4 linked regions of the Homo sapiens genome follow. The protein of the gene in region 1 interacts with the protein of each later gene in a biochemical or structural test. Each region holds a gene or a part of one and is shown in the gene's direction. Other genes may lie near its edges. The genes, in order: CTTN, MAP4K5, WASL and ARHGAP17.

Region 1 (8,441 bases):
TTAGTATTCATTTTTACAATCCCTTTGGAACTTACATTCTAGGTTCATTTTAATTAGGAAATGTTTCATTTTCTCTCTTCCTCACTGTGTGTGACGCTGTCTGTCTCCCTGTTCTGCAGTTGCCTCAACCTCTCTGTATTAGGGTGGGCTAAACATCTGGAACAAATGGACTCCAAACGCAATATCTTAAACACAACAGGATTTTCTTTTGCTTTCACGTAACAGGGCAGGGTGTATGTCCAGGTCAGGCAGAGGAGGAGAAAGGGATAGTAAGGAAGATCTGTTCCACGCAGTCTTGGAGGGATGCAGGCTGGTGGGCTCTGCCATCCTCAAAACAGGGCTTCCAAGGTTGTACCTGTCACCTGTAGTAGGCTGAATAATGGCCTCCAAATATGTCTGCATCCTAATAGTCAGAACATGTGATGTTGCTTTACATGGCAAAAAGGAGTTAGCAGATGTCATGACATTAAGGATCTTGAGATGGGAGGATATTCTGGGTGGGTCTGAAATGGGATCCCAAATGTTCTTGTAATAGGGAGGCAAAGAGACATATCCGTACAGAGAGAAAACAGGTGTGAAGATGAATGCATGGGTCTGAGGGATGCAAGAAGCTAGAAAGGCCACAGATGGTTCCTCCCCTAGAGTCTCCAAAAGGAACAAGCCCCACTGACACCTTGACTTTAGCCCATGAAACTGATTTCAGACTCTGGCTTCCAGAGCTGAAGAGCATATATTTGCATTGTTTTGAGGCACTGAGTCTGTCATAATGTGTTGCAGCAGCCTAGGAAGCTGGTCCACGGTAGGAGGCAGCCCCGGGGAGGAATGATGGTCCAGGCTCAGAAGCCATGCATGTCACCTCCCCTCATGTTCCATGGGCGAGAACCTGGCCACATGGCAGCTCCCAACTCCAAGGGAAGCTGGGAAATGTAGTAGAGCTGGACACCCACATGTCCACTTAGTACCGAGGAGGGTGGGGGCGCTGGGTGGACAGCTACATCTCCGTCACACGTGTTGTATTGAGTCCTACAGCCCTGCGTGGTGGTGCAAATGCCCCAGGTCCCATCTGCACTCTAAGTCAGGGACTGGTTTGCTCAGGTCCTGGACATAAGGCTGTCTGGACATCCCTCTTTGGCTGCATGGGTTTTTAAAATTTTTCTTTATTTTTATTTTTTTGAGACAGGTTCACACCATGTTGCTCCAGCTGGTCTTGCACTCCTGGGCTCAAGTGATTCCTCCCACCTCGGCCTCCCCAAGTAGCTGGGACCACTGGTGCGCCCCTGGCTGCGTGCTTCTTTTACAAGCGTGGGTGACCCAGGCCCAGCAGCTTTGCAGTTGCAGGCCCACTCAGCACTTTGCATTTCTCTTCATTTCTGGCTCACAGAGATATCACTTTTGTTTTGTTTTGTTTTGTTTTTTTGATAGAGTCCCGCTGTGTCTCCCAGGCTGGAGTGCAATGGCGCGATCTCAGCTCACTGCAACCTTCACCTCCCGGGTTTGAGCGATTATCCTGCCTCAGCCTCCCAAGTAGCTGGGATTACAGGCGCCTGCCACCATGCCTGGCTTATTTTTGTATTTTTATTAGAGACGGGGTTTCACCAGGTTGGTCAGGATAGTCTCGGACTCCTGACCTCAAGTGATCCACCTGCATCGGCCTCCCAAAGTGCTGGGATTACAGGCGTGAGCAACCACGCCCAGCCACCAGTTTTGTTTTTGTTTTTGTTTTTATTTTTTGAATTTTAGTAGAGATGGGGCTTCACCATGCTGGCCAGGCTGGTCTCAAATTCCTAACCTCAAGAAATCCGTCTGCCTTGGCCTCCCAAAGTGCCGGGATTATAGGCATGAGCCACGGCGCCCGGCTTCGACCTATTTTTGAGCACAGCTATACTTCTTGCTTTGCAAATTTTACACTGTATGTGTAATTCCTGTGGCCAGCCTCAGTCTCTGCCACACATTCTCCTGGGGAGCACAATGGGCATGTGGAAGAGTGTGCTGCCCCTTTCTCTCTGGGAGCCACTCTGAAGCACCCTGCTCTTCACCGGCAGCAGACTGGTCTTTCTAAGCCACGAACGCTGCCCTCCTGCTGAAAAGTCTGCAGTGAGCTTTGTCTTTCCTTCTCTGTAAAATTAGCCCAGCTAATTTTTGTACTTTAATTTTAGAGACGGGGTTTCACCATGTTGGCCAGGCTGGTCTTGAACTCCTGACCTCAGGTGATCCACCTGCCTTGGCCTCCCAAAGTGCTGGGATTACAGGCATGAGCCACCGCGCCTGGCTGCTATATTTTCTTTACATGTTTTCTTGAATAAAATACATTTTCTTCAACCTAAAAGTTCATTTTTCCAATTTTAATAGAAATAAGAACATTTCCGTGGGCGCCCAAAGATATGTCCACAGCCTAATCCTCAGCACCTATGACTATGACCTCTTATGGCAAAAGGTGTGACACAGTGAGGGACTTGAGAGGAGGGGTTTGTGCTGGATCAATACAGTCACAGGGCTCCCTCTGAGATGGACACCACCGGCTATGCCTGCTTTTTTGACTAGATGATTTCATACCTCTGTAGAGGCAGAAATTAACCTTTAAAAAACAGGCAGCAATGTGGCCTGGCAATGTGGTGGCTCACACATGTAATCCCAGTGCAGGAGGGTCACTTGAGCACAGGAGTTCGAGACCAGCATTAGCAACACAGCAGGACCCAGTATCTACAAAAATATTAAAAAATTAGAGGCCGGGCATGGTGGCTCACGCCTGTAATCCCAGCACTTTGGGAGGCCGAGGCGGGAGGATCACCTGAGGTCGGGAGTTCGAGACCAGCCTGACCAACATGGAGAAACCCTGTCTCTACTGAAAATACAAAATTAGCCAGGCAAAGTGACGCACGCCTGTAATCCCAGCTACTCGGGAGGCTGAGGCAGGAGAATTGCTTGAACCCGAGAGGCAGAGGTTGCAGTGAGCTGAGATGGCGCCATTGCACTCCAGCCTGGGCAACAAGAGGGGAACTCCATCTCAAAAAAAAAAAAATTAGCTGAGTGTGGTGGCACGTGCCTGTAGTTCCAGCTACAGCTACTTGGGAGGCTGAGGTGGGAGGATCACTTGAGCCCAGGAGATCGAGGCTGCAGTGAGCCTTGATTGCACCACTGCACTCCAGCCCCTGTCTCTAAAGATTAAACAAACAAACAAAAAAAAACAGTCAGCAATGTAAAAAAAAAAATTTTTTTTTTCAGAGATGGGGTCTATATTGCCCAGGCTGGTCTTGAACTCCTGGGCTCAAGCAATCCTCTGGCCTTGCCGCTCAAAGTGCTGGTATTACAAGCCTGGCCAACAATCCTTGTGCACAGAAAATGCAAATTAGCTGTGTCCAGTTAAATGCAATTGACCTTTGCACTAGAGATAGAGCAGTTTTTGCAAATTCATTTCAGCATTCGTCTTCCGTTTTTTTTTTTTTTGACACAGGGTTTCTGTTGCCCGTGCCGGAGCGGTCCTTTTGCCTCAGCCTCCAGAATAGCTGGGACCACAGGTAAACGTCACCATGCCTGGCTAATTTTTTTCTTAAAAAAAATTTTTTTTTTTTGGTAGAGACAGGGTCTTGCCATGCTGCCCAGGCTGGTCTCAAATTCCTGACCTCCAGCAATCCTCCTGCCTTGGCCTCCCAAAGTGTTGGGATTACAGGCGCGAGGCACTGCATCTGGCCAAATTCTTTAAACAATTTGTAACAACTTATGATGTATTCATTATCGAGTTAAATAAAATATTTGACGTGTTCATTTTATATGTGTATGAAGGTCATGATTTTACCTTTAAAAAAATGGTCAACACCTGACATTTCCTTCCGCCACCCGCACTTCCAATTCATCCTCACATCTGACAGTTTAGCTTTCTAAATGCCTCTTGCATCTATCCACTTCTCCCCATCTTACCTGCCACCAGCGGTCTGCCCGAATTGGCTACATTAGGCTCTACCTGGCCCTTCTCCCATCCATCTTCCACACAGCAGCCAGAGTGATCTCATTACAATTCAAACTTCATTATGTCTTATTTATTTATTTAGCGATGGCGGGCGGGGGCGAGGGTCTCACTATGCTGACCAGGCTGGTCTCGAACTCCTGGCCTTAGGCGATCCTCCCATGTCAGCCTCCCAAAGTGTTATGATTACAGGCGTGGGCCACTGCGCCTGGCCCAAACTTCATGATGTCTCTTATCAGCTTAACTTCCTCCGAGGACTTCCCGTGTCTCCCAGAATAAAGACCGAGGTCTTCGCTGTGCTCTATCGGCCTCTGCATGACCTGGCCCCTCTCACACCACAGCTCCGCTGCACCACTAGCCCTCTACCATGCTGAGCTGAGCCTCCTCCAGTTCCCCTGCTGCAAGACCGTTCCTGCCTTGGGACCTCTGTTGGCCCTGCTGTTGGAACCTGCTGTTGGCCTGCCTGGAAAATTCTTCCCTCCTTACCTTGTTTACTCTTATAGGGCCTTCACATCTTGGCTAACATGTGAATCGCCCAAAGAAACCTCTGGTCTCCCAGGGGTTCAGGTCCTACCGTCTCCCCAATACGATGTTATGAAACTCTCACTTCTTGGCATTTATCTCATTTCCCAGGTGAGTACCCATGTGGTTTAACGCTTGACTCACCTTCTAGGCTGCTATGTCCCTGTGGCCGGGGCTCGCGTCCCTGGCACGCATGTGGCCCTTTCTTGGAGGGGAGGTGCATGGTGAGCGGACGAGGACGGCTGAGGGCGCGCGCGGAGGGAGGATGGAGAGATGAAGAGGCTCCCCGCTCCCGGACTCAGGGCACGTGCGTCTCCTCGGCTGGCTTCCTTCCCCCGGCCCCGGGCAGCGCCGCGGATCCTGAGACCCCGCCGCGGGCTGTGTGCTGCTCAGCGCCCATCCTCTGCGCGCGCAACGCTACTTCCGGGCGAGCTCTGCAGACTCGCCACAGGCCGGGCTAGCGCTTAGCCAGCTGCGGGCGGACCCCCGGGACTCTTGCGGGCCAAGACGCGGGAGGAGGCGGGGCAGGGGGCGGGGTCGCGCGGGGACCCGGATGCGGCCCCGCCCCCGCCCTCGGAACCGGAAGTAGAGCCTGGTGCCTGGGAGCGGCTGGCGCGGCGGAATCCAGGGCCGACCCGGGCCGGACCGACCCCAGGCGGCGGTGAGCGAGCGCGGCGTCCGCCCGGGGTGCAGGCCGGGCTCTGCTTCTTCCCTCCTGTGGCGTCGCCTGGCCGCGAAAGGGGAAGGAAGCGGCGGCCGCAGCGGTCTCACCGCTCTTCCGCTTGCGGTTTCGGGGGCCGGGGCAGAGTGGCGAGGCTTTCCCGGCCTGGGGCGGGGCAGGGCGAGGGCCGGGGGTCCGCGAGGGCCACGAGGACGGGTCTGGGCCCAAGGAGGCCGGGCAGGGGGCAAGGGGGCACGGAGGGCTTGGGGCTGGGGTCCGCGGAGGAAGGTTAGAAAGGGGCCAAATTGGGGTATCAGCTCTGAGGGGAGGGTCCCTGGGCGCCGGGGGGCTCCAGGGCAGGAGAGGGGCCAGGCTGGGAGGGGTCTTGGGTCCGAGGGAATAGGAGAGGGGGATGGGCTCCGAGGGGGAGGGTATTAGGGCCCGAGGGAGAGGGGCTGGGCCTGTGGGGTTCGGGGGTCTGAGCGGAGGGGGCCGGGGTTCGAGGGGCCAAGGAAGGTGGGTGTGGGGGGTCTCAAGGAAAGGGCGAGGGGTCTGAGAGGGAGGTGTCTGGGTGCAGAGGGAAAGGGATGAGGTCCGAGGGGAGGAGATTGGGGTCTGACGGGAAGGGGTCCAGGCGCAGAGCTACTGGGATGGGGTCCGAGGGAAGGGAATTGGGGTTCGAGGGGAAGGGGTCGGGGCTCGGAGGAAAGGTATAGGGTCCGAGGGGAGGGGATTGGGGCTCCAGGGGAAGGGATCCAGGCGCAGGGAAAAGGGATGGGGTCCGCGGGGTCAAGGCGGTTGGGGTGCGCGACTTTGAGGGGCTCGCTGTGGGACGTGGCGGAGCAGCTGGGGATCCGCCCGGCCTGCACCTGAGCGGAGGTTTTGCAATCAGGTCAGTGGAGGCAGCGAGGCGCGGCTGCAGCTAGTCGTGAGGCTCTAAATTTGGAACCGTCCCTCCTTCGGGGTGTGTTTAAAATCACCAGAACGGTGCTTTGGGGCTTTCTGTTACGTTTCCATCACCTGGATAGTCTAAGGGATGCCTGATCCCTGAAGCTGGAAGGCCTTGGGTGAGAAGGGACAGGGCTTCCTCCCGCTGGAATCTGTGGACGTTTGGGGCCCCTTGGGGAGGAATTCATTTTCTGCTGAAGGAAGCTCCGGAGGCATCCGGTGAGCGCTCCCTGGAATCCCATGCGCTCCCTTTGGGCTCAGTGTTGACTTGGCTGCGCAGGCTCTGTCGGGGGGACTTCACCCACTAGGTCCTTCAGGCATGATCCAGCCCTCAAGCCCGGCCGGGCCCAAGGCCGTGGCGCAGGAGGGGCTGGCCGCCTGCCCCTGTCTCCATTCACGTGTTTGACCGTGTGGGTGAGTCACTGGCTCCAGAGCACTGAGTCAGTCCTGTTTCTCCTCTGGTTAGAGAAGTATTCGCCAGATACTCAAGGAACAAGGAAGAGTCTTTTAAGTGGGACTCAATAAAAAGTTGGGGAGGCAGGGTTGTTTTGATATTAGGTCCCCTAGAACTAGAAGCTAACCTTCTGCTATATCTTACTGAAAAGAAATTTCTTTTGACCTGGGGCAGGGGTGCGGTGGCTCACACCTGTAATCCCTGCACTTTGGGAGGTCAAGGTGAGAGGATCGTTTGAGGCCAGGAGTTCCAGACTAGCCTGGGCAACACAGGGAGACCTTGTGTCTACAAAAAAAGAAATTCGCTGGGCATGTTGGCTTGCACCTGTTGTCCTAGCTACTTGGGGCGCTGAGGCAGAGGATCTCAAGCCCAGGAGTTGGAGGCTGCATTGAGCTCGATCGCACCACTGTACTCCAGCCTGGGTGACAGAGCGAGACCCTGTCACCCAGGCTGGAGTGCAGAGGCTCTTCACAGGTGCCATCTAGCACACTGCAACCTTGAACTGCTGGCCTTAAGCGATCCTCCCACCTCAGCCTCCCAAGTAGCTGGGACTGCAGGCCCAGCTAAAGCTGACTTTTAATTGTAGCATTTTGATGGACTTGTTTTTAAAACACTTTTAAAATGACAGCACACATAATCGGCAATTCAGATCTTCAGTCTGTGCCACGCAGTAGGTGCTCAGAAAAGGTGTCCTGAGAGTGTGAATTGCTGTGAGCGCTGGTTGCTGCCTTGTGTTGCAGTATTCCCATGGCCTGGGCCAGCCAAGAGCAGGGGACTGTGCTCCAGGAGCAGGCTTGGCTTTCACTGTGGCCCAGGCCCACCCCATCTGCTCACGCACTGCTTTGAGTAAACGGAGTAAATGTTGGGGGCGGGGTTTCCCTTGAGTAAGTGTGGTGTAGGGAGTGTGCCTGTGATGGTGATTTTGGCTACGCAAGTGTCTGTTTCCTTTCTCCTCCTGCTCTGCCATAGATGCTGAGGCTAATGGAAAGCTGATGGTGGACGGATGGTTCTGTCCTGTCATTTAAAACATTCTTCTGCCAGGCTCGGTGGCTCACACCTGTAATCTCAGCACTTTGGGAGGCTAAGGGCAGGTGGATTGCTTGAGCCCAGGAGTTTCGAGATCAGCCTAGGCAACATGGGGAAACCCCATCTCTGTTAAAAATAGAAAAATTGGCCGGGTATGGTGGCTCACACCTGTAATCCCAGCACTTTGGGAGGCTGAGGTGGGCAGATCACGAGGTCAGGAGATTGACACCATCCTGGCTAACACAGTGAAACACCGTCTCTACTAAAAAAAAAAATACAAAAAATTAGCCGGGCGTGGTGGTATATGCCTGTAGTCCCAGCCACTCAGGAGGCTGAGGCACCAGAATCGCTTGAACCTGCGAAGTGGAGGTTGCAGTGAGCCGAGATCACACTATTGCACTCCAGCCTGGGCAAAAGACTGAGACTCCATCTCAAAAGAAAAAAGAAAAAGAAAAATTAGCTGGGTGTAGTGACAGGTGCCTGTAGTCCCAGCTACTCAGGAGGGTGAGGCAGGAGAATCGCTTGAACCCAGGAGGCAGAGGTTGCGGTGAGCTGAGATCACACCATTGCACTCCAGCCTGGGCAACAGAGTGAGACTTCGTCTCAAACAAAAAAAAACAAAAAAAAAAAGAGAGAGAAAAATCAGCTTGGTGTGGTGGTGCATTCCTGTAGTCCTAGCTACTCGGGAGGCTGAGGTGGGAGGATCACCTGAACCTGGGACACAGAGGTTGCAGTGAGCTGAGATTGTGCCTCTGCACTCTAGCCTGGGCCACAGTGCAAGACCCTGTCTCAGAAAAAAAAAAGAAAAAAAAGGCTGGTGGGGGGCTTTTAGGCGCGGTGGTTCGTGCCTGTAATCCCAGCACTTTGAG
Region 2 (7,489 bases), on another chromosome or scaffold:
CCCCCACTATATGGCTTGCTCCCTTCCTCCTTTTTTTCACATCCTCCCGATCTTTTTTTCCTACTCTATTTTTTGCTTTGTACTTATCACCAACATAATGTTTTACTTATTTTTTTCTTGTTTATTATCTATCTTGATTCACTAAAATACTCCATGATGGCAGGGATTTTAATCTCTTCACTGCTCTGTCTCTGATTATGCCTGCCACAGAGTAAGTACTTCCTAAAAATTTGATGAATGAATGAATGAATGAATATCAGACTCTGTCACTTAGTTCTCTGAGCACATGCTTTTGACATCATAGCACTAAGTTAGCATTTAATACTCTATGTATTCCTGTAATGCCTTCTGTTTGTCTGTTTGTTTGGATACAGGATGTCGCTCTGTCCCCCAGGCTAGAGGGCAGTGGTGTGATCTTGGTTCATTGAAGCCTCAACCTCCCGGGCTGAAGTGATCCTCCCACCTCAGCCCCCCAAGTAGCTGGCACTACAGGTGTGTGCCACCATGTCTGGCTAATTTTTGTATTTTTTTTTAGTAGAGAGGAGGTCTTGCCATGTTTCCCAGTCTGGTCTCGAACTCCTGAGCTTAAATGATCTGCCTGCCTCGGCCTCCCAAAGTATTGAAATTACAGGCATGAGCCACCACATCCGGCCCTGTGATGCTGTCTAATGATACCCTGCGTGTGTATTTTTATTACAAATTTCATCTATTTGAGTTCTCTGGGGAAATATTTCTGAAAAACTATTTTATAGTATATCCACTATCAGTGATCTAAGTCCTATAGAATTTTGTCAGTTTAAATTTACTCCTTAGTATGCCTAAAAACACATAACCTGAAACTGTAGTGCTGAATTTTTTAAGCTCTGGGCAATTAGAGTAATTTTGCTATTTATCACTGTGTTTCTGATGAGCTGAACATCCTAGGACGTTTTAGAAGTATTTTCAATGTAGGATATAAACTAGTGAAATACCTGCAGTAAAGAATAATGAAGGTAAATTAGCCACTGTTCTACTCAGATAATATCCCCCTGTGTTTTTGAGAGATGGTCTTGTGCTTTAGGCTGGAGTCCAGTGGCACGATCAGCTCACTGCAGCCTTGAACTCCTGGGCTTAAGGGATTCTCTCTCCTCAGCCTCCTCAGTAGCTGGGACTACAAGTGTGTGTGGCAACATGCCTGGCTAATTTTTTTTTTTTTTAATGTAAAGACAGGGTCTTCCTGTGTTGCCCAAGCTAGTCTCAAATTCTTGACCCCATGTGATGCTTCTGCCTCAGTCTCCCAAAGGGCTGGGATTAATAGGTGTGAGCCACCAAGCCTGGATTTTTCCCTGCCTTTTTTTTTTTTTTTTTTTTTACACCTTAGGTATCTTTTGAAGCAGAAGCTTTAAAGGACTCTGGCTTTGAGATTCTTCGTAATTTACTTTTATGTTCATCAATACCACAGATCCCCTCTGAAGCTTCCATCTTTCCTGAGAATCCCCAAGAGGGAGAGTTCAATCTTATATTGGCTGTTCTTTGGTTGAAAGAAGAGGAGGAACATAAAGATTCTTTTAGATAAATGGAGTGAATCATTGAGGGCAAGAGCAGGAAATGGTAGAGGGAAAAGAAACACAGAAGAGAAAAGGAATTTGGTGGATGGTGGATGAAGGATTAAATGTCAACTGAGCAGCTTTTATTTGTAATTACTGTAAAAATGTAGATCTGCCAGCAGGAAGGATAAATCTGGAGATTTAGATTCTCAACTACCTCTGACCACAAGGATCTATAACAACTACAGCATCATGATACAGTTCATAATCAGTAGTACAAGCCATTTGGGCAGCCCTTATCCAAATATTTGTATCAAAATTGCTTCCAGCCTAGATTTCAGAGAAGTTCTGGCAATCTGGCTTTTTATTTTTATTTTTATTTATTTATTTATTATTATTATTATTATTATTTTACCTTTCATAGAATATAAATTTAGACTGGGCAATCCTATGAATTTTTTTCTAAGCTTTATTGCTTTATCTGATTGATTATAGAAGAATAACATGTTTAGTTCCCAGGGGACAGAAACAGATGTCTCTTGCACATCTTTGTAATGTAACAAACAAATGCTCAATAAATATTTGTTGAACAAATTAGTTGTAGAAAATTACTCAGAGATAGGTACTGCTAATAATTTAATACAGTTTATTTCAGGCTTATTTCCTAAATGTTTTTAAATCAGTATTTCCAAAATGGCTTTTATATTTAATTTATGATTGGGAATATGATACAGGTCTTTTTTCTGTTTGATTGAAATGACCAGCATTTTCCCTAGTCGTTAAATATTCTACAAAAGTACATTTTTTTTTTTTTTTGGATGACAGGGTCTTGCTCTTTTGCCCAGGCTAGAGTGCAGTGGTGTAATCATACAAAAGTACTTTTTTTTTTGAGACGGAGTCTTGCAGTGTCGCCAGGCTGGAGTGCGGTGGCGCAATCTCAGCTTACTGCAACCTCCTGACTCCCTGGTTCAGGTGATTCTCCTGCCTCAGCCTCCTGAGTAGCTGGGATTACAGGCATGTGCCACCACACTCAGCTAATTTTTGTATTTCTAGTAGAGACGGGGTTTCACCAGGTTGACTAGGATGGTCTCAATCTCCTGACCTCGTGATCTGCCCACCTTGGCCTCCCAAAGTGCTGGAATTACAGGGTGAGCCACCACACCCAGTCAAAAGTACTATTTTTAAAGGATCCGTTGAATGAGCCTTCATTTAGTTAATCATTCTAAGTTGCATATTTGTTATTTCTAGTTTTTAAACTTTTTTTTTTGCAATTATAAATGATGTTATAATTTGCGTAGAAGTCTTTGTCATGTAGTCTTATCACTAACGTGGGTTCCTCTGGATGCTAGATGAATTAGGTCTGCTATGGGGAATCTCCTTTATGTATGCCTTTACTTTCTTTTCCTCCAGCCAAGAGTCACCATTCTGGAATGGCTTTAGGCACTTTGAAACATATCCCAAGATCCCATTTTATAGAGACAAAGCTTAATGTATCATCACACTTCTAGAAGCATTCATTCATTAAAGAAGTATTTGTTGAGTGCTGACAATGTGTTAGGATATGGGGATGCAAACATGAGATGAAGTACACTGTCAATAAGGAACATATGGTTTAGTCAAGAAAACAGACGTGGCCAGGCGCAGTGGCTCACGCCTGTAATCCTAGCACTTTGGGAGGCCAAGGCTGGTGGATCACCTGAGGTCAGCAGTTTGAGACCAGCCTGGCCAACATGGCAAAACCCCATCTCTATTAAAAATACAAAAATTAGCCGGGCATGGTGGCAGGTGCCTATAATCCCAGCTACTTGGGAGAGGCAAGAGAATTGGTTGAACCCGGGGGTCGGAGGTTGCAGTGAGCTGAGATTGCGCCACTTCACTCCAGCCTGGGCAACAAAAGCAAAACTCCATCTCAAAAAAGAAAAAAGAAAGCAGACATGTAAGCAGTCATAATTTGGTAGAAAATTATGTGCCATAGAGGAGAAGTGGAAGAAATGCCAAACTCTGCCTTTATTGGGGATGAAGGAAGGGAGAGAGAGGAGTGTGAACCAAGGAAGATTAACAGAGGAAGGAACATTAACTGGATTTTTAAAAGAAGACCAGTGGTTTCTAGGTAGAGAAGATAGGAAAAGATATTCCAGGCTTTGGGTATAGTATGTGCAAACACCTGGAGGCTTGAGAAGCCGTGATGAGTTTTGAGAGATCTGCATCTGTATTCATTCCAGGTTCAGTGTGACATCTGGCAGAGATGTCATTTCAATTATTTATTTTTATTATTTTATAGATGGAGAATAGAGGCTATTTTCTGGCAGGAAACACCAGCTAATGGACTCCATGTGTCATATCAAAGAATTTGGACCTTTTCAATTATTTATTTTTATTTTTTTGAGACAGGGTCTTACTTTTTCACTTAGGCTGCAGTGTAGTGGCATGATCTCAGCTCACTAGACCCTCCGCCTCCCAGGCTCAAGTGATCCTCCCACTTCAGCCTCCTGAGTAGCTGGGACTGGCACACACTGCCATGCCCAGTTAATTTCTGTATTTTATTTTATTTTTTTGTAAAGGTGGGGTTTCGCCATGTTGCCCAGGCTGGTCTTGAACTCGGAGGCTCAAGCAATCCATCCACCTCTGCCTCCCAAAGTGCTGGGATTTTAGGGTGTGAGTACACTGTGCCCGGACTAGAGAAACACTTTTTAGGAGGAAATATCTTACAGTGTAGTGTAAGGATTTTACAAAGTGGCTAGAAATGTAGAGACCAGTTCCCGAATAATCCGGATGAGAGTTTATGCAAGACTAAATTTAGGCCCTGGTATAGAAGATGAAAGGAAGGGATGGATTTGAGTCATATTTAGAAGATGATCAAAAACACCTGGTAATCGGTGAGGGGCAGGAGGAGAAGGGTAATTGATGGCATTTAGAATTTCTGGCTTGAGTGACTACATTGATGCTATCAACAGAGTTAGGAAATACCAAATATGTGGAGTCTGGATTTTGTGTTTGGTTTTGAACATAAGGCATTGCATAGGTGAATGTGTCTGGTAGGTGGTAGGAAATGCACCTCTGGCCTTGAGAGTTCTGGACTGGGGATACAGGTTTGGGAGTCATCATCACTTTATGGGGTGGTACCTGTGAAATATAGGTGAGGTCACCCAGGAGAGTTTGTAGGAGAGCTGAGGAAAGGCTGTAGCCTTAGAGGGGTGGCAGAGAAAAATAATATATTGAAGGTGTCTGAGAAGAAACAAAGCGGTATGAGGAAGTTCTTTTCATAGGAACGAAAAGTTTCAAGAGATGATCTCTATCATCAGCTGCCTCCATTCTTGTTCCTGTTTGCTCTAACTGCAATGAGGAAGATGAATTCATTCTCCAAAAAATATAAATCTGAAGTTTTGTGTCATTTCTCCTTTATTTCCTTTGTCTGTAGAATAAAGTCTTAGAATAATATTCCTGTTAAGGCCCTGCTTATCCCAATACCGTATCCATACTGAACTTTCAGTTCTTTATATGCACTCTACTCTCTGTCTTTCAGATTTTTGCAGGTATTCCTTTAGAACACTCTTTCTCTTCCATCTTATCGCCTACTCTTTGGGTTTCTGTTTAAACATTACATTTCTCGGTGGGGGGGCTTTTCTGTCCCTTAGAGTAGGTCACACCTAGCAGCTGTATGTTTTCAAAGCTCCATGTACATTTTTTATCATGATACTCATCATTTATCACTTCTCATTTTTGCTTGTCTTCCTGGTAGACTAAAACTGCATGAGAACAGAGATCTTATGTTTACTGTTGAAACACCTGTACTAGTATATTGCCTAGTATATAGTATGTGGTCAATAAATATGCCTTGAAGGAGTAAGCAGCATAGTGGTCATGTAAGCAAGGAGTTGGAAGGGTTCATTAAGAGTAGAGTTGAGGTATGATTGGTAAGTGAGGAAGTAGAGGGAATGTAGCCTGCTCTCTGAAGCAGCTTAGCTATGACAGGAAAGAGAAATGAGGCACACAAATGTTTCTTCTTGTTTCAGGGTTTTACTTTCATCAAGACTGAGTGATTACAGCATTCAGTTACCATTCTTTAAGTTTGTCGTATCACCCAAGTGTCTAAGACGATTGCTGAGTTTAGAGATGGAATTCTACAGAGAAGGAAATCAAGACAAAGAATTTGGGAGGAATTGAGAATTCAGAAAGCAGATAAAAGGAAAAAACATAGGATGGATTTTTAGGGACTAGAGTAGGGGATAAATGTAAAAACCTCCCTCCCTTTCTGATCTGGAGCCTTGTTTGTTTATTTCCAGTCCTAGTTGTTCCACTGCGAGCATGGTTAGAGTGAGGCATGTTAATGAATGGGAGCTGGGATGGAGAACTGGGAGGACAGGATGCAAAGGAGTATTTAACATTCAACAAATACTTATAGAAGGCCTCCTATGGGGCAGACACTGTTGTGGTGCCTTGTGATACATCTAGTGAACAAAGCGGACAAAGATTCCTCCCCTCATGGAACTCAAATTTTAGTGGGGGGAGAGAGACAACAAACATAATAAACACATTGTATAATACGTTACAAGGAGATTAAAGGTATAGAAAGAAGAAAAGGTTGAATGGTTAAGGAGGATCAGGAATGCCTGAATGGAGTGAAGAAGGCAGGTTGGGGAATTATATAAGGATGGTCAGGGTAGGCCTCATTGAAAAGGTTAGATTTGAACAGACTTGAAGGGCATTAGGGAGTTAACCAAGTGGATAACTGGGTAATCAAAGGAAGTCTTAAATCTCTTTCTTATTGAGTCACCGGAACCTGTGTCTGTAGCTGAATTCTAAGCTTAGGGGCAGGCATATTATCTAAGACACAAGCATGGCCATCACCATGCCTTATTGACTGGTGCAGGACCACAGGTCATTGTGATTTTTATTTATTTATGATTTTTTTTTTTGAGACAGAGTTTCGCTCTTGTTGCCCAGGCTGGAGTGCAATGGTGTGATCTCAGCTCACCGCAACCTCCACCTCCCAGGTTCAAGCGATTCTCCTGCCTCAGCCTCCCTAGTAGCTGGGATTACAGGCATGGGCCACCACGCCCGGCTAATTTTGTATTTTTAGTAGAGATGGGATGTCTCCATGTTGGTCAGGCTGGTCTCGAACTCCCGACCTCAGGTGATCCACCCGCCTCAGCCTCCCAAAGTGCTGGGATTACAGGTGTGAGCCACTGCGCCCAGCCCATTGTGATTTTTAATTAAGTTCAGCAGTTGGTTGTAGGTTACCAAGTCTTATGTTATTTTTTTAAGCATGAATTTGTAAGCAAAGAAAATGTAGCTGTTTCTTATGTCTTCTCTCCACCAGTATACTTTGATCTTTAAATATTAAGAGTCTAGTCCAATGCCTAAAAATCTGAAGGTAATAAAAAATAGATGTATGTGATGTTATTTCTCTGACATTTGATATCAAAACATCACCTACTTTCTTATTTTTTGATAGTAACACAGCTGAACTATATGAATATACTGTCCTTTTTGTGTCCTGTGTCTGACATTATGAGAGACTCTTGGTTTTCATATTTGAGTGAGAGAGTGAATAACTTGGAAAAATAGCTTAACAGTAGAAAATAAGAGAGGAAGGATTGTCCTTCAAAAACTTTAAATTATATTTCTTATTAAATAAATGTTATGTTAAATGTTGTATAAGGTCACTGCGAAAATAAAACATGTTTTATTGGGATGATGTGCTACTGTTGTGGATATTTACTATTTTAAAAGTCATCTGGGTAAAATCTTATTATTTATTTTTCTTACTGTTCAGAGGTAGGCTTATTTTGTGACTGCCTAAAGAGAAAATATGGTTCTAATGATGAATGTGAAGCTCTGAACCATACCTGGGAGCAAAATACATGTTATGAAAACTGTAAAAGAAGTAAAAAGTACTTTCAACTTGGTGAAGATAGACATAAAACAGTGCCGTCACTAGTGCAAGTATAGCAATGCATCAC
Region 3 (7,489 bases), on another chromosome or scaffold:
GTACATCTAGTTTCCTAATTGCTATCTTTTTAGAAATGAATGTATTTTGACAGCACCATACTAAAAAAGACTTTATGCGAATTCTCCTTAGAACTAACAAATTGCTTGTTTGATTTTTGCATTCTTCAGCCTGGTATTTGGTACCTTTAGATAGTGTATGCAAGACGCATTTTTCTGAAGTTTTCAGTGCTGGCAGCAGGATGCCTGTGGCACTATCATCCTGAGATTGTGCACTTGCAAACACAAGTGTGTTTTGAGCAGGCCAAAAAGTGTCCCACATTCTTCAGTCTCCTCTTTGAAACCCAGTGTCCCAGGATACACATTTTTTGTTTTTAAGTTATCATAATTTTTATTGACTCTTGCAGAAATTTTTCTGTTCCTTTGTGTCCTACTCAGTACTGTATGTGAAGTTCAAGGTTGAGTTTGGTCTGTAATGTTAAAAACATAACATTGAACATTGTTATCTGAGCAAGTCTTTATGGACTTTTGATCCTAACAGTATACTGATCTTACATTTCTGAATTTAGTATCTAATTATAAAAGATTTGTGCATATAATTGTTCTTTGAAATTCCTCTTACCAAAAAAGGGCACCCCTCAGGCATAGTTCAGTAAACCTAAAACAGCATATCTTCAAATCTTAATGTAGTCTATTTTTTATTACAGAGCCCAAATTCCGTTGAACTAAGGTACCATAATTACTTAATCAGCTCCTATTTTAGGTTATTTCAGTTCTTCCTCTTTAAAAAAATATATATTTATATGAAATATTTTATTTTTATATTTATATTAAAATATGAAGTATTATATTCTAAATGATTTTCTTAATTTCTAGTTTAGAAGTGAAATTACTTTATCAGAAAACATAATTATGGCTTTCAGAGGATTTGTAAGTGCTTTATCAGTGTAAGTGTGTATCACTTTCATAGAAACTTAAGGTTGAATAGTTACATTCTAGGTTATAAAGTAAACTTAATTTAGAATAAAATTAGTTTACACCTTTTCATGATATAGTCTTGAGGAAGGGGGCAACATGGTGTACTGGAAAATCCTAATGCCCTGAAGTGTCCATTGCATGTAACGAGTTAGCTTCCCTCCTATACATCTGAAAGGGTTCTATTTAGGGACTATCCTTGGTAAAATTGAGACAATAGTCACTCAAATCTTTTTCATATCCTCAGTATAGCATTAAAACTGCGTGGCCACTTGTGCAAATCACTTACAATCTTAAACTCACTTTAGAAAGGAGATACTATAATCTGCCTTCCAGGGTGGTAATACTGCTTTCAAGTTTGTCTCAATCCTTATCTAGATAAGTGCTTAACTGCTTTATACAAGTCAGCCATTACTAATGCTACTACTTCATTGCTTAAGTGTTCACTTTATTGGGAAACAGTGTAATAGGGGGAGTAAGAATGCTAGATTTGAAGTCACAAATTGCCTGGATTTGGAATTTCAGCTCTGCCATTTAGCTGTGTGGTATTGGGCAAATTAACCCCTTTAGTGTCGGGTTTCTCAAGTAAAAAATGAAGTTATCATAGTAATAACAAATGAGGCTATATTTAAAAGTGATTAACACATTTCCTAACACATTTTAAGCATCAATAAATGTTTTCAGTAATTATTGTTATGTGATTATTGTATTAGTTATTTATTACTACATAAGAAATTACTTCAGAAACTAGTGGCTTAAAATAACAATACATGTTTATTATTTCCTTGTTTCTGTGAATCAGGAATTTAGGAGCAGCTTAGCTGGGTGGTTGCGGTCAAGCTGTCAGCAGGGGCTATGATCATCTACATATTATTTTGAACCTAATGGTTATAAATTTTATATTTTGCAGACTATGTCTTCAGCAGTGGTGCAGTTATATGCAGCAGATCGGAACTGTATGTGGTCAAAGAAGTGCAGTGGTGTTGCTTGTCTTGTTAAGGACAATCCACAGAGATCTTATTTTTTAAGAATATTTGACATTAAGGTGAGTTTTGTTTTGCTTTCACTTTAAACTAGGTGATTAGGTTTTCTATATCAATTATAATTTAGTTTAGATTTGTTTATCCTATATGTGATATTTAAATTTATACATAAACTAATATTAGAAGAGTGAAGCTTGGTTTTTAGATATTGCATACGGAAATCATGACCAAATGGGAACATGTCTGAAGCCAGAATGTGAATAGTTTCCTATTTTATCTTTCTCCTGCTACCACGCATTAAGGCTTTTTTTTTTTTTAAATTATGCCTGTTGGTTCTTGGGCTTTCTTTACACTCTGTATTTTTTTAATGAAACTCTTTTATTCCACCTGGTTCATTATAGAATAGCGTAGATAGTCTGTTCAGGTAACAACAAAATAATATTTTAGCTCAGTATGTACTGTTATTTAGCCCAGGTTTAAAACATTTCAATATCTATAAAAATCTGTTTGCTACTCATTTTTCCTTATATTGTTTCTCATGATAGATATATTCAGATTTTCATAGCTTTATATCCCTCCCTTCCAATCATAAATCACATTGTTATAGATTGAATACCTTGTTAGGTATTCATTTCTTACAGTTGTCATAAAAATATTTTGCTAAGATGAAGTCTCCATTATTTTTTTAAAAAACCTTTCTGTAAGTAAGCCTCCATGATTAATATTTATATGTGGCAATAAGTGCAATGAGATTTTAATTACAAAAAACTAAAACTGCCTTTAAACTCTTGGGCGCTAATATGACCTGATAGATAACAGTGAAGAGATTTTTACACCTCTGGTCTCAGCTTTATTTGTAAAATCAGATAACCATCTTGGTTTGTTATGAGGTATTTCACTGAGATTAAATGAGATCTCAGTTATGGTATTTGGTAAATTAGTGCTTCTTTTGTTGTTGTTGTTGTTGTTTTGAGACAGGGTCTTGCTCTTGCTCTGTCACCCAGCCTGGAGTGCACAGCTTACTGCAACCTTGATCTCCTTGGCCCAAGCAATCTTCCCACCTCAGCCTTCTGAGTAGCTGTGACTACAGGTGCATGCCACCACACCTGGCTAATTTTTGTATTTTCTTATAGAGATGGGTTCTGCTGTTTTGCCCAGCCTGGATTCAAACTCCTGGACTCAAGTGATCCTCCTGCCTCAGGCTCCCAAAGTGCTGGGATTACAGGCCTGAGCCACCAGTCCCGGGCTAAATTAGTGCATCTTAATGTCTGCTTCCAAGACAGCTGAGAGATATGACATGCTTCTGTCACTAGCAGTGGCTTACTAGTAATCACTAGCAGTGGCTAACTATGGCAGTGATTCTGGGGGGTGGGGAACACATACGTAGTTTGAAAGAAACCCCCAAGTGCTTTGACATATTTCTCATAACCATTGAGAAGCACTATTTAGAAATGGCATACACTTACTACTCCACTAAGAAGAAAGGGATTCCATTGCAGTGGTTATAATGTGTGAACAGTGTATTTTACATATTTTTAAATTGTGGTCTAGGTAGAACCTTGCATTTCTGAATAGGGCAATGACTATCTTTCTCTAACCACTTATTTCCAATTGCTGGACACTCATAATTCGTCACCTTTGGTATTAAGATTAAACATATTTTTTATACTATGGCAATAGATATGGCAGCCATCATGGCACTCTTATCCATAGTTTAACCTTGATACATTTTAATTATCAGTCTCTTTCTGCATCATGATTAATACTACTTATACTAGTATATAATTAGAAAGGTACTCTGCAAAAGTTAAGAATTTGAAGATGGTTAATTAGCAGTACAAGGAAGGTATATTTGACCCTCCCACATCTATAAAATTGAGGAAAAGAACATAAAGTATTCCTGCAGTGTTTGATAGTACATTGTCTAAATATTGCTGGTGGAACTGTGCTTTGGTAATCAGTTCATGTACAAAAGTATCCTATTCCTTCTATGTAACATTGATGACCTAGTAATTATTCTGGTTATTATGTATTTGACCAAGTAGCTGAATTTGGAAATGGTTGGCTAGTGAGATTATATCTTAGCTGAATTAAACTGACTTGATATGTAGGTTTTATGAAAGATACGTTATCCAGTGTTTTCAGTTTTAAGAAATTACTGATTAGATTATGTGACACTATTTATATATTATAAATATGTTACATGTGTGCATTAAAAGTTATTTTTAATATAAACAGTTTTCTTAATATGAGTCATCTTCTTTGTTTTATTCCTAGAGATTATGTTTTGGTAGTTCTTATTTTAATTTTTAACTTTTTTCTAGGATGGGAAACTATTGTGGGAACAAGAGCTATACAATAACTTTGTATATAATAGTCCTAGAGGATATTTTCATACCTTTGCTGGAGATGTAAGTCATATTTTTCTTTATTGCCATCTTTACTTTTTTCATTGCTTGCCTTTTCTAATCCAAATTATTTATAGAACCTTATTGAAAGATCAAATTCAATTTGCTATTTTATTTTTTTGCTGAAGATGAAATATTCAAATTAGTATATGTGTCTGCTGTGATAGGTAACTTCTCTAATAGTAATCTTTTACTTGAACTTCTTCATGCTTTTGTGTTAAGTTATTCAGATCATAAAATAATGTCTTATCTGCTAGTAAAATTAACCTTTCGTTCTTTAGAAATATACTTCTTTTCCTCATTGTTTTTATGATATAAAGCTAAATTCATACATTCTGTTGTTTCCCCTTTGTGATGAAAATATTTCAGACTTGTCAAGTTGCTCTTAATTTTGCCAATGAAGAAGAAGCAAAAAAATTTCGAAAAGCAGTTACAGACCTTTTGGGCCGTCGACAAAGGAAATCTGGTAACCCTTTTTTAATTACTTAAATCAGGCCAGCAAACTAATGCTCATGGGGCAAGTGTGGTCCATTTCCTGTTTTTTGTAAATAAAAGTTTACTGAAACTTAACTGTATTCATTGGTTTACATGTTGTCTTTGGCTATTTTTTGTCACAACACAGTTAAATAGTGATGACAGTGATATATGGTCCTCAAAGCCAAAATTATTATCTGAAATATTTACTATTTACAAAAAAATTTGGTGGTCCTTACCTTAAAATAAATAATATTTTTGTTGAGAACTATTTTTTTTAGATTTACCGAAGGGCCCAATACAATAACCTTTTTTGTTGATAAAATTTCATATATATTGACTTTTAATTTTGCATTTGTGATAGCATTTTTTGTAAAGTTTTAAAAGTATTTTATACTTTGTAAACAAAGACTTTAGGTAAGCTTAGAAGCAAATAAGCAGAGTTGCTAACAAGATCTGTAAACATTGCCTTGTCTTTCTATTTTGTTCCTAATGCTATATACTATAAAACCCATAAGGAACTTAGTTTAGTGTGTGAAACAACTCTAACACATATAAAACAATTATAGAACAATGCAGGATAGTATAAAGCTTTAAGTTAATTGGAGTAGAACTATTACTTGACAACAGTGAACCAGGTGTTTCTCTTGTAAAGTGGAGAAGGGTGACTAGGAAAGGGGAACCTCTCCAAAATCATCTTAAGCAGATGAGTTTCAGAAGAAAGAACATGTGCTTTCATCCAGTCCTATAGTTCCAAAAACTGTATGCCAATGACTCTCAAAGTTTTTTCTTCAGTACTGACACATCTTCCCTGACCTTCAGACTCTGTCTACTCAAGTGGCAGAATAGCCTTTAGACTTAACACGGTCTGAGCAGAATATTTGATCCATGTCCTGTATCCTGAACCTTAGCCCCACTCAGATCTGTTCCTATTCTTCTACTAATCTTCCTTGTTTCAGTAAAAGGCATTTGTTCCATCTTATCCCTCAGGCTCACCATGGTCCCTCATAAATCCTATCAGAGTCCTATTGACTCTGCCTTCAAAAACATGTCCTGTCTGACTATTTCTTACCATTTCTGCTGCTACCATCCTAATCCAGGCCACCATGATCTGTCAGCTGGGCTGCCACACTAGCTCTCTGACTGGTCTTCCTGCTGCTACTCAATCCTTTTTACTATCTCTTTTCTATACAGTAGCCAGAGTAAACTTTTAGAATTGTAGATTAGGTTATATCACTTTCTCTATTTAAAATTCTGTAAGAGCTTCCTATCATATACACATAAAATCTATAGTCCTTAACCATGGCCTGTGGAACCCTACATGATCTAGTCCCTGACTTTCCTTCTTGTCTCCTTTCACTGTGCCATTTGCTCACTGTAGTCCAGTCTTCATGATGTTCTTTCATGTTGCACCCTCCTTGGGGCCTTTGAATGTATTGTTCCCTTACTTATTTTATTTAGATCTCTACTTAAATGTCGGGTCTTCTGAAAAATCTTCCTTAGTCACACGTATGTCAATTTAGGAATAAGACAGTTTAGTGAATTAATTTTTTTATGTTGATGTTGTCTTACATATATTTAATAATATTCTTCTAATTTATTTTCTAACAGAGAAAAGACGAGATCCCCCAAATGGTAAGCTTTTTGACAATTATTAATCTTTTAAGATTTTAGATGACAGTTTAATCCTTGTGGAAACATGTACCATACATTAGTAATATTTAGTATCTTTTACATGTTAATCCTTGTGGAAACATGTACCATACATTAGTAAGTAATGTTTAGTATCTATGATCAAATTATACAGTTTATTGTGTTCCTATTTTTAATTAATGATTGACAGATGAGACTTAGGAAACAATATTCTTTGATATTTTTCTAACATGAAGAAAGAATACATAGGGTGAAGATCACTAATACTTATTATATTTTAATTCTGGATTCACAGTTGACTAAGTATACAATCGGACCTTAACATTTTTCCTAGAGGCAGTACATTTTGTCTAGAATATTTGTTAATGTCCTACTTTAAGATTTACCTTTCATTCTTATTTCAAAATATTATTTCACATTGCTTATGTGTTATATGAAGCCCCTTTCAAAATGAACACCTACTGTTGTGGTGTATTTAGAACTAATTTAGCTCTGTATAATGCTCTTTAATTTGATAATGACCACTTGAAGTATTATGAATTCATTTTTTAAAAAACATTGAATACCAGAGAGTAAAAGCAGAATACCAGGATGTAAAAGATAAGGTCTCAGGGGTAGAAATTCTTACTCTAGACTTCATAAACTCCCTGAAATTGTGTGCTAAATATGTTCTTTTCTCTGGAGAGAGAGGATCCATGGCTTTCATCGTATTTAAATGAGGTTCCTGACTCTATGAAGGTAAAGAATCATTCTCCAGCACACTTTGTTATGATAGAGAAAATGGCTGCTTTTTAAAAGCATATCTCAAATCCTCTTATCAGAACCTAGAATGATTATTCAAGGAAAACTTACATAATACAGAGTTCTTAATATATGACAGCTATTGGTGATTGTTGGGGTTTCTTTTAAACAGATACGTTGCCTTTTGATTTTGTCCTTAAATTTCTTTTTCTGATACAGAAACATGAACCAAATGTTGCTGTATTAAATTCTGGGTTGTTTACCTTATTATTAATTTTTTAAATGCCTGACTACCTT
Region 4 (7,489 bases), on another chromosome or scaffold:
TATGCCTATTTTTTAATACCATTGTTACCCGGGGTGTATTTATTCCACAAGTTTAGTTTACTGATCTGCTACAACACTGTAATATACTGCCTGTAATTATTAGATAAGTGAAATTTTACATTAAAAATGTGTTTCCCGAAGATACTAGCTATTTAAAAACCGGTCTATGCTATGAATTCTCCTAACTCAAGAAATTCCAGGTTACCAGAGTTATCTTTGTATTACAGAATTAACCTGTACTATCTTAAAATCCCCTGGCCTCCCACTGAAAGTACACAGAAGGCCAACATTTAGAATTTTTTAATCTGCTAGTATTGATCATACTGCTATTAACCATTCTTGGATGTAGCCATTGGGTTTTTCAAGGAGGAAAAAATATATAACTTCCTTGGACAGGATGGTCCTTTATTATGACATAATGTTTTCACTTAGAAAACTTTAGATGGACAAATTCCTGAAAACAGGTTATTCCTTTAGAATTGGATTAAGTTAGAGTTTTAAAGAGTTGGGTTAAGGCTAATGGGATTAAGATAAACTCTTGGGGGGAGATTATTGCTGCCAAGCAGGTTTGGCAGCCAACTTCTCACAGCTCAGCACCAGCACTGGAGGATGCCGGCATTCTGGCATCATTTTGAGTCTCCTGTTAATTGTGACTCTAGAGAGCAGTAAGAGTTTTAATTCCCATGTAAAAGAGTTTACATCTTGCTATTTTTGAAGTAATAGATTTTAGCAAAGAGTATTCTAATTTAAACATTTTATTAAATAATTTAGATGTATGACCTGCCATATTCAGTAAGAACTGAGATTGGAATATTTAATGGTAAGGAAAAGGCACCTGATTGGCCAATGCATTTTTGCTACTTGATGATCATATTTGTGCACTCATGCCTGTTACTAACTGGCCACCCTAACCCTGCCTGCTTGCATCCCTACTAATAGTGCATGCACTGAAGGAGGACTGGCTTTGTTGATGCTTGCTGCAATGATTCGGAATACTAAGTGTGTACCCAGATGTGGAACAGGTGGTCACAGGGCTGTCCTTGTTACTTCTTTAATTTCCATTCTTTTCCATATCAGGCAAGCTTGAGGTATAGTAGGAAGAACACACATTATGGAGTCAGACCTGACTGAGTTAGAATTTCAGCTCTTGGTATAACATAGGCTAGGCACAACCTGGCTGATCTGTAAAGTGGTGACATCTGTCTAAATTGTTGAAGATGAAATAAGAGAAAGTCCAAGATTATTCTGTTAGCCAGTTACAGTTCTTAATATACGCGCAATCTCGGCTCACTGCAAGCTCCGCCTCCCAGGTTCAAGCAATTCTCCTGCCTCAGCCTCCTGAGTACCTGGGATTATAGGCGCCTGCCACCACATCTGGCTATTTTTTTTATTTTTAGTAGAGACGGGGCTTCACCATGTTGGCCAGGCTGGTCTCGAACTCCTGACCTTAGGTGATCCGGCCTCCTCAGCCTCCCAAAGTGCTGGGATTATAGGTGTGAGCCATTGTGCCTGGCCTGCTATTTATCATTTTTATCTAGAAGAAAATAGTTTTAATCAGATTTCTATGTTAGATTCACATATCAGGGTTTTAAAAACTCATACGCCCGGACCCGGCCTTCTAGGACCCAAACACAGGAGACTGGGGGTGGAACCCAGGTATCCATATTTTGATTCTGATGCACCACTTGGTTTTTTGAATCTCACTTCTTTCATGGGTTAAAAAGACAATGCTCTGCAGAAGGAGATAACATATACATTCATATAATTTAGTGAGCCTGAGACTGTCTGTGAGGCGTTAGTCCACTGTACCACAGATAGACCAAATCACTCACAAAGTAGCCATAAGCCTGGACACTTTGCTGGCTAATTTCATAGTGTTTGCTTTTTAAACTCTCACCCTTCTTATGTCATGTAAGTAATGCCTTTTTAAAAATAAGCATGAGCTGGGGCACGGTGGCTCACGCCTGTAATCCCAGCACTTTGGGAGGCTGAGGCGGGTGGATCACTTGAGGTCAGGAGTTCAAGACCAGCCTGGCCAACATGGGGAAACCCCATCTCTACTGAAAATACAAAAAGTTAGCTGGGTGTCGTGGTGGGTGCCTGTAATCCCAGCTACTTGGGAGGCCAAGGCAGGAGAACTGCTTGAACCCAGGAGGTGGAGGTCGCAGTGAGCTGAGATCGTGCCACTACACTCCAGCCTGGGTGACAGAGTGAGACTCTGTCTCAAATAAATAAAAATAAGCATGGATATTAAAACTCTTGAGAAATGGAAATAATAAGAAATCAACTGTAGCTATACAATTGAAAAAGTCTGCCATTTATATTCTACTTTTTTTCTTTTCTCCTCTTCTCTTCTCTTCTCTTCTCTTTTCTTTTCTTTTCTTTTTTTTTTTTCAGACGGAGTCTCACTCTGTTCCCCAGGCTGGAGTGCAGTGGCACGATCTTGGCTCACTGCAAGCTCCGCCTCCTGGGTTCACACCATTCTTCTGCCTCAGCCTCCCGAGTAGCTGGGACTACAGGCGCCCACCACCACGCCCAGCTAATTTTTTGTATTTTTAGTAGAGACAGGGTTTCACCATGTTAGCCAAGATGGTCTCGATCTGCTGACCTTGTGATCTGCCCGTCTCGGCCTCCCAAAGTGCTGGGATTACAGGCGTGAGCCACCACACCCGCCCCTTTTTTTCTTTTAGTTTTTCTAGAAGGCAAGGAGGTACATGAGCATAATTATTTGACATAGACAGATTTGGATCCTTTTATTTCACTTTACATCATATGCTCGTTCTCATGTGATAATGTAATTTTTAGAACCATGTTTTTCAGTGACTACATAATGTTTCATCAACCAGATGTATTATTACTCCTAGTTGGATATTTAAGTGGCTTCTGTTTCTACTTGCAGTTTATTTTTAATAAGTAGATAATCAGAATTGTGTCAAGATAACATCCAGTGAGACTTGAACAGAATCACTCCTGAATAGTTGACTCAGAGTCTCTAATAGCCCTAGAAAACTGACGAGAAATCATCAGTTCCTGATAAAATTACACAATTCTACTTCAACCAAAGAGGATCAAAGCCAGATTGGTTGGACTGTCATTCTTCTGTTTATTTATTTTGTGTATTTTTTGAGACAGAGTCTTGCTCTGTCACCCAGGCTGGAGTGCAGTGGTGCAATCTTGGCACACGGCAACCCCTGCCTTCCTGGTTTAAGCAGTTCTCTTGCCTCAGCCTCCCAAGTAGCTGGGATTATAGGCAGGTGTGGCAACACCTGGCTGATTTTTGTATTTTTAGTAGAGACAGGGTTTTGCCATATTGGCCAGGCTGGTCTCCAACTCATGACTTCAAGTGATCCACTCACTTCTGCCTCCCAAAGTGCTAGGATTACAGGCATGAGCCACCGCACCTGGCCCCATCATTCTTAATCACCCTAACATTTTCCCTCTTTCCCAAAAGAGTTGTGTATATCCTTGGGTGAGGATCCTGAAAGTGAAGACATTATCTGAGGAAATAATGGTTTGGGTCTTAAACACTCTGGTTAGAGCTAAGTTTATATGACAGGTATTACATTGTAAAAAGGAGAAAAAGGTTATTTTAGAAAGACACCTGTTAGAACCTGCTTTTTTTTTTATTTTTTTTTATTTTTGAGACTGAGTCTTACCCCGTTGCTCAGAATGGAATGCAGTGGTGCGATCTCAGCTCACTGTGACCTCCACCTCCCAGGTTCAAGCGATTCTCCTGCCTCAGCCTCCTGAGTAGCTGGGATTACAGGCACTCACTACCGTGCTCGGCTAATTTTTGTATTTTTAGTATAGACGGGGTTTCACCATGTTGGCCAGGCTGGTCTTGAACTCCTGACCTCAGGTGATCTGCCTGCCTCGGCCTCCCAAAGTGCTGGGATTACAGGCATGAGCTACCACACCCAGCCAGAACCTGCTTTCTAAAAGCACCCTAAACCTCTTTGGTTGTGAATTTATATATTCTCTGCCTTCCAAGGGCTGGTCTTTGAGGATATTGCTTGGAACTAAGTTCATACAGTAGATATTTTATTTAAAAAAAAAAAAAACAGAAAAGAGACCTCCAATAAAAGGTTTCTTTTTTGTCTGATTTTTTGCTTTTTTTTAATTTTGAAATATAATACTTGTCATATAAACTTAGCTCCAAGCAGTATGCTCAAAGACCAGCCCTTCTTGGAATGCAAATAATATATAAATTCATAGCCAGAGACGTTTAGAGGTGTTTAAAGAAAACCAGGTTCTTACAAGTGTCTTTCTAAAATAACCTTTATCTCTTTTTTACAACAATCAACCAGAGTGTTTAAGACTCAAACCGTTCACTGGTGAAGGAAGGCATTCCCTGAGACTCTAGGTCTGAGAAGAGGGATGGGTGGTGGAGAGGGGGAGGGAGTTTATTCGCCCTGCAGTTGTGCCTGCACCACTTACTTTCAAGGGCATATTTGGATCTGTTACTTGTCAAAGTGGCTATCAGAATCACCTTGGACTTCTTGAAGGGTGAGTTCACAACCGAGAAAGCACATATTCAAAATTGTTGAAGTAATAAGTAAATCTTCTAGAACCTTACCCTCAGTGATAACATTCCACTTCTAGCTCTTAAATACCCACTTCTGTTTCCTGGATGAGATACTCAGTGCAGGAAGGAACCTGGGTTACATTTGTCAGAGCCCCAAATCTGAGATGAACTGTATCAAGTTCTGCCTTTGGGCTGAGGCTGGTTACTGGAGGTCATCCTCTGTTTCTCTCTTTTTTTTTTTTTTTTTTTTTAAAAAAAAGAGAGACAGGGTCTTGCTCTGTTGCCCAGGCTAGAGTGCAGCGGTGTGATTCCAGTCCACTGCAGCCTTGACCTCCTGGGCTCAAGCGAATCTCCCAAGTAGCTGGAAGGTGGAACTAGAGGCATGCACCACCACACCCGGCTAATTTTTGTGTTTTTCTTATAGAGACGGAGTCTCATGTTGCCTGGGCTGGTCTCGAACTTCTGGGCTCACACCATCATCCCACCACGCCCAGCCTATTTTGTTTTTTTAAATACAATATCTTTTGTATGAACTTAGCTCCAAGCATATGCTCAGAAACCAGCCCTTCTTGGAGTGCAGTTAATATACGAGTTCATAGCCAGAAAGATTTAGAGGTGTTTCAGACAAACCAGGTTCTTACAGGTGTCTTTCTGAAATAACCATTTTCTCCTTTTTACAACAAACCAGAGTGTTTGTAAGACTGAAACAATGATCTTGGATAATGTCTTTGAAGGCCCTCACCCAGGGATTTACAGACTCCTCTGGGGAGGAGGGAAAATGTAATGCGAAGAGCCAGAGTGCAACCAATCTGGCTTTGATCCTCTTTGGTCCACACTGGCTGTGTCACCTTGGGCAAGGAATAGAGCCTCTGAGTCTCCCTTTCTTATTTCTGCTGCCTTAGGATTAGTTAGTGGGGGTTCAGTGAGACGATGTAATAAAGTGTGGGTGTATAGTACAGTCTCTGGTGTAAGTAAGTGCTCTATAGTAATGTCAGCTACTGAGGCTGGGTGTGGTGGCTCATGCTGGTAATCCCAGCACTTTGGGGAGCCGAGGTGGGAGGATTGCTTGAGGCCAGGAGTTCAAGACCAGCCCAGTCAACATGGTGAAACCTTGTCTCTACCAAAAATAAAAAAAATTAGCCAGGCATGGTGGCGTATGCTTGTAGTCCTAGCTACTCGGGAGGCTGAGGTGGGAGGATCAGTTGAGCCCAGGAGGTGGAGGCTGCAGTGAGCTGAGATTGCACGACTGCACTCCAGCCTGGGCAAAAGAGCAAGACCCCATCTCAAAAAAAAAATTTTTTTTTTTAATGTTAGCTACTGTGATGAAGTCTCTTTCTGAAAACTGGTTCTGTACAGGTTGCCGTAATTCTTTCTACTTTTTGTGTGTAAACAAAGTCATTGTTTCTTTCAGGGACTGATTCATGTAGGAATAGAGAGGGGCTGGGGAAACCAGATGGGGCAGGTGGGCGGCAGAGTAAGGGATTTCCTTTATGCCCCAAAACACATTTTTTCCCCTTGAATTAATAATGTGTGTGGATCATAAATAGAAAAATTCAGAGAGGCACAAATCTAAAAATTATGTATATGTGATGTATAAGAAAAAGAGAGCAGCTGTGGAGGGGCTTGGTGGCTGATAGGCGTTAGCTTGCATGTGAATACAGATATTAACAAGTAGAAATCTCATCCGTATACACAGTGCCTTTGCATCATGCATTCCCCGCCAAGTCATGTCGGTTCCATAGTTTCTGGTAAACTCTGGGCTGAGAAGAGACACGGGCTGGTAGCCCCTTCTGTTTTTGGGGGCCAAGATAATGGGGAAAGGATTGCATTTGCAGTGATTTTCTTATACGTCGTCTTCAAGTCACAGCTACTTCTTTGCCTGAGGATGTAAGAATGGAGGATTGGAAAGATGGTTGCTCTAGATGACTCTTCATGCATCCATCCAACCATCCAAGTGTGCAGCTACAAAATTTCTTGAACATCTGCTATTTGCCGGTCACTGTTTTAGGTACTGAGGATACACTGTGAACAAGACAGACACAGTCCCTGCCTTCGTTGACTTCTGTTCTGCTTAGGACAAATCCAAGACAGCCCCTATTCTGTGCATACAGACCACCTTTGGCTGCACCATAGGCTGGTGCAGTTCTGCACAGTGTCATTGGTTTTATAGTTATCACAAGACCTGAATTGTCTGAAATGACATTCAGCACCTGAACTCTTTGACACTTTGGCACCTCCATAAATCTAGAAATTTCTCTGAGTTGTGGTGCATAGGAAACCTTGAGGGACAACCCAGGAGTAACTGTGAGAAAAAGGGTGTCCCAGGGAGTAAATAGATCTCACAGCTCAGAACTGTAGGGACAGGAAGGTGGAAGGGGTAGGAGCTGGAACAAGTCTCCAAGCAGTGAGCTTCCCCAAAGTGCACCAGCGTTTTCAAGCTGTGCCTGCGTAGACGGGAGCAGGTCGAACAGAAATATAGTCAAAACTAGCTCCCGTCAAGGACAGACAGGATGTCATTTTGCACCACAGCAAGTAGGGGAAAGCAGCTCTCAAGCCTAACTGTGAAACGCCCCCACAAACCACCTCCTCCTCCCACTCCCTCACTGCTGCCTGCCATGGCTACCTCTAACGCAGCAAAGCAAAACTACAAAACATCTCTCTTCTCTCTTACACCAGCCCTAAAATACCTAATGAGGCTCTCATAATTTGCCAGAACCCACATCTACGAGAGAAGCCAGCCCTTTTGTCTTAATTAGGATCCCCTTGGTCTGCCCACTTGACCGTGGGCTTCATTGAGGCTGTGCCTGTCTTGTTCAGTGCTGCGTCCTCAGCAGGTAGAATGGTGCCTGGCACCTGGGAGGTGCTCAGTAAATATTTGTTCATGCATAAATGAATCTGAGACCCACTGGCCTCTGGGAAGAGCATAGGAGAGGGGGACAACAGCATGAGGACCATATGTTTGCC

The links.
Region 2: the proteins of CTTN (region 1) and MAP4K5 form a complex in vitro, tested with the Homo sapiens proteins (one study listed by BioGRID).
Region 3: the proteins of CTTN (region 1) and WASL interact in far-western blotting, tested with the Homo sapiens proteins (one study listed by BioGRID).
Region 4: the proteins of CTTN (region 1) and ARHGAP17 form a complex in vitro, tested with the Homo sapiens proteins (one study listed by BioGRID).

Annotation. Positions count from the first base shown.
Region 1 is NC_000011.10:70,393,471-70,401,911, forward strand, and holds the start of CTTN (src substrate cortactin), read left to right. Parts: upstream 1-5,058; 5' UTR 5,059-5,144; intron 5,145-8,441.
Region 2 is NC_000014.9:50,522,265-50,529,753, reverse strand, and holds part of MAP4K5 (mitogen-activated protein kinase kinase kinase kinase 5), read left to right. Parts: intron 1-7,489. UniProt on the Homo sapiens protein: May play a role in the response to environmental stress. Appears to act upstream of the JUN N-terminal pathway.
Region 3 is NC_000007.14:123,703,578-123,711,066, reverse strand, and holds part of WASL (actin nucleation-promoting factor WASL), read left to right. Parts: intron 1-1,843; coding exon 1,844-1,978; intron 1,979-4,240; coding exon 4,241-4,327; intron 4,328-4,693; coding exon 4,694-4,790; intron 4,791-6,409; coding exon 6,410-6,433; intron 6,434-7,489. UniProt on the Homo sapiens protein: Regulates actin polymerization by stimulating the actin-nucleating activity of the Arp2/3 complex. Involved in various processes, such as mitosis and cytokinesis, via its role in the regulation of actin polymerization.
Region 4 is NC_000016.10:24,921,015-24,928,503, reverse strand, and holds part of ARHGAP17 (rho GTPase-activating protein 17), read left to right. Parts: intron 1-771; coding exon of another isoform or gene 772-779; exon of another isoform or gene 780-820; intron 821-7,489. UniProt on the Homo sapiens protein: Rho GTPase-activating protein involved in the maintenance of tight junction by regulating the activity of CDC42, thereby playing a central role in apical polarity of epithelial cells.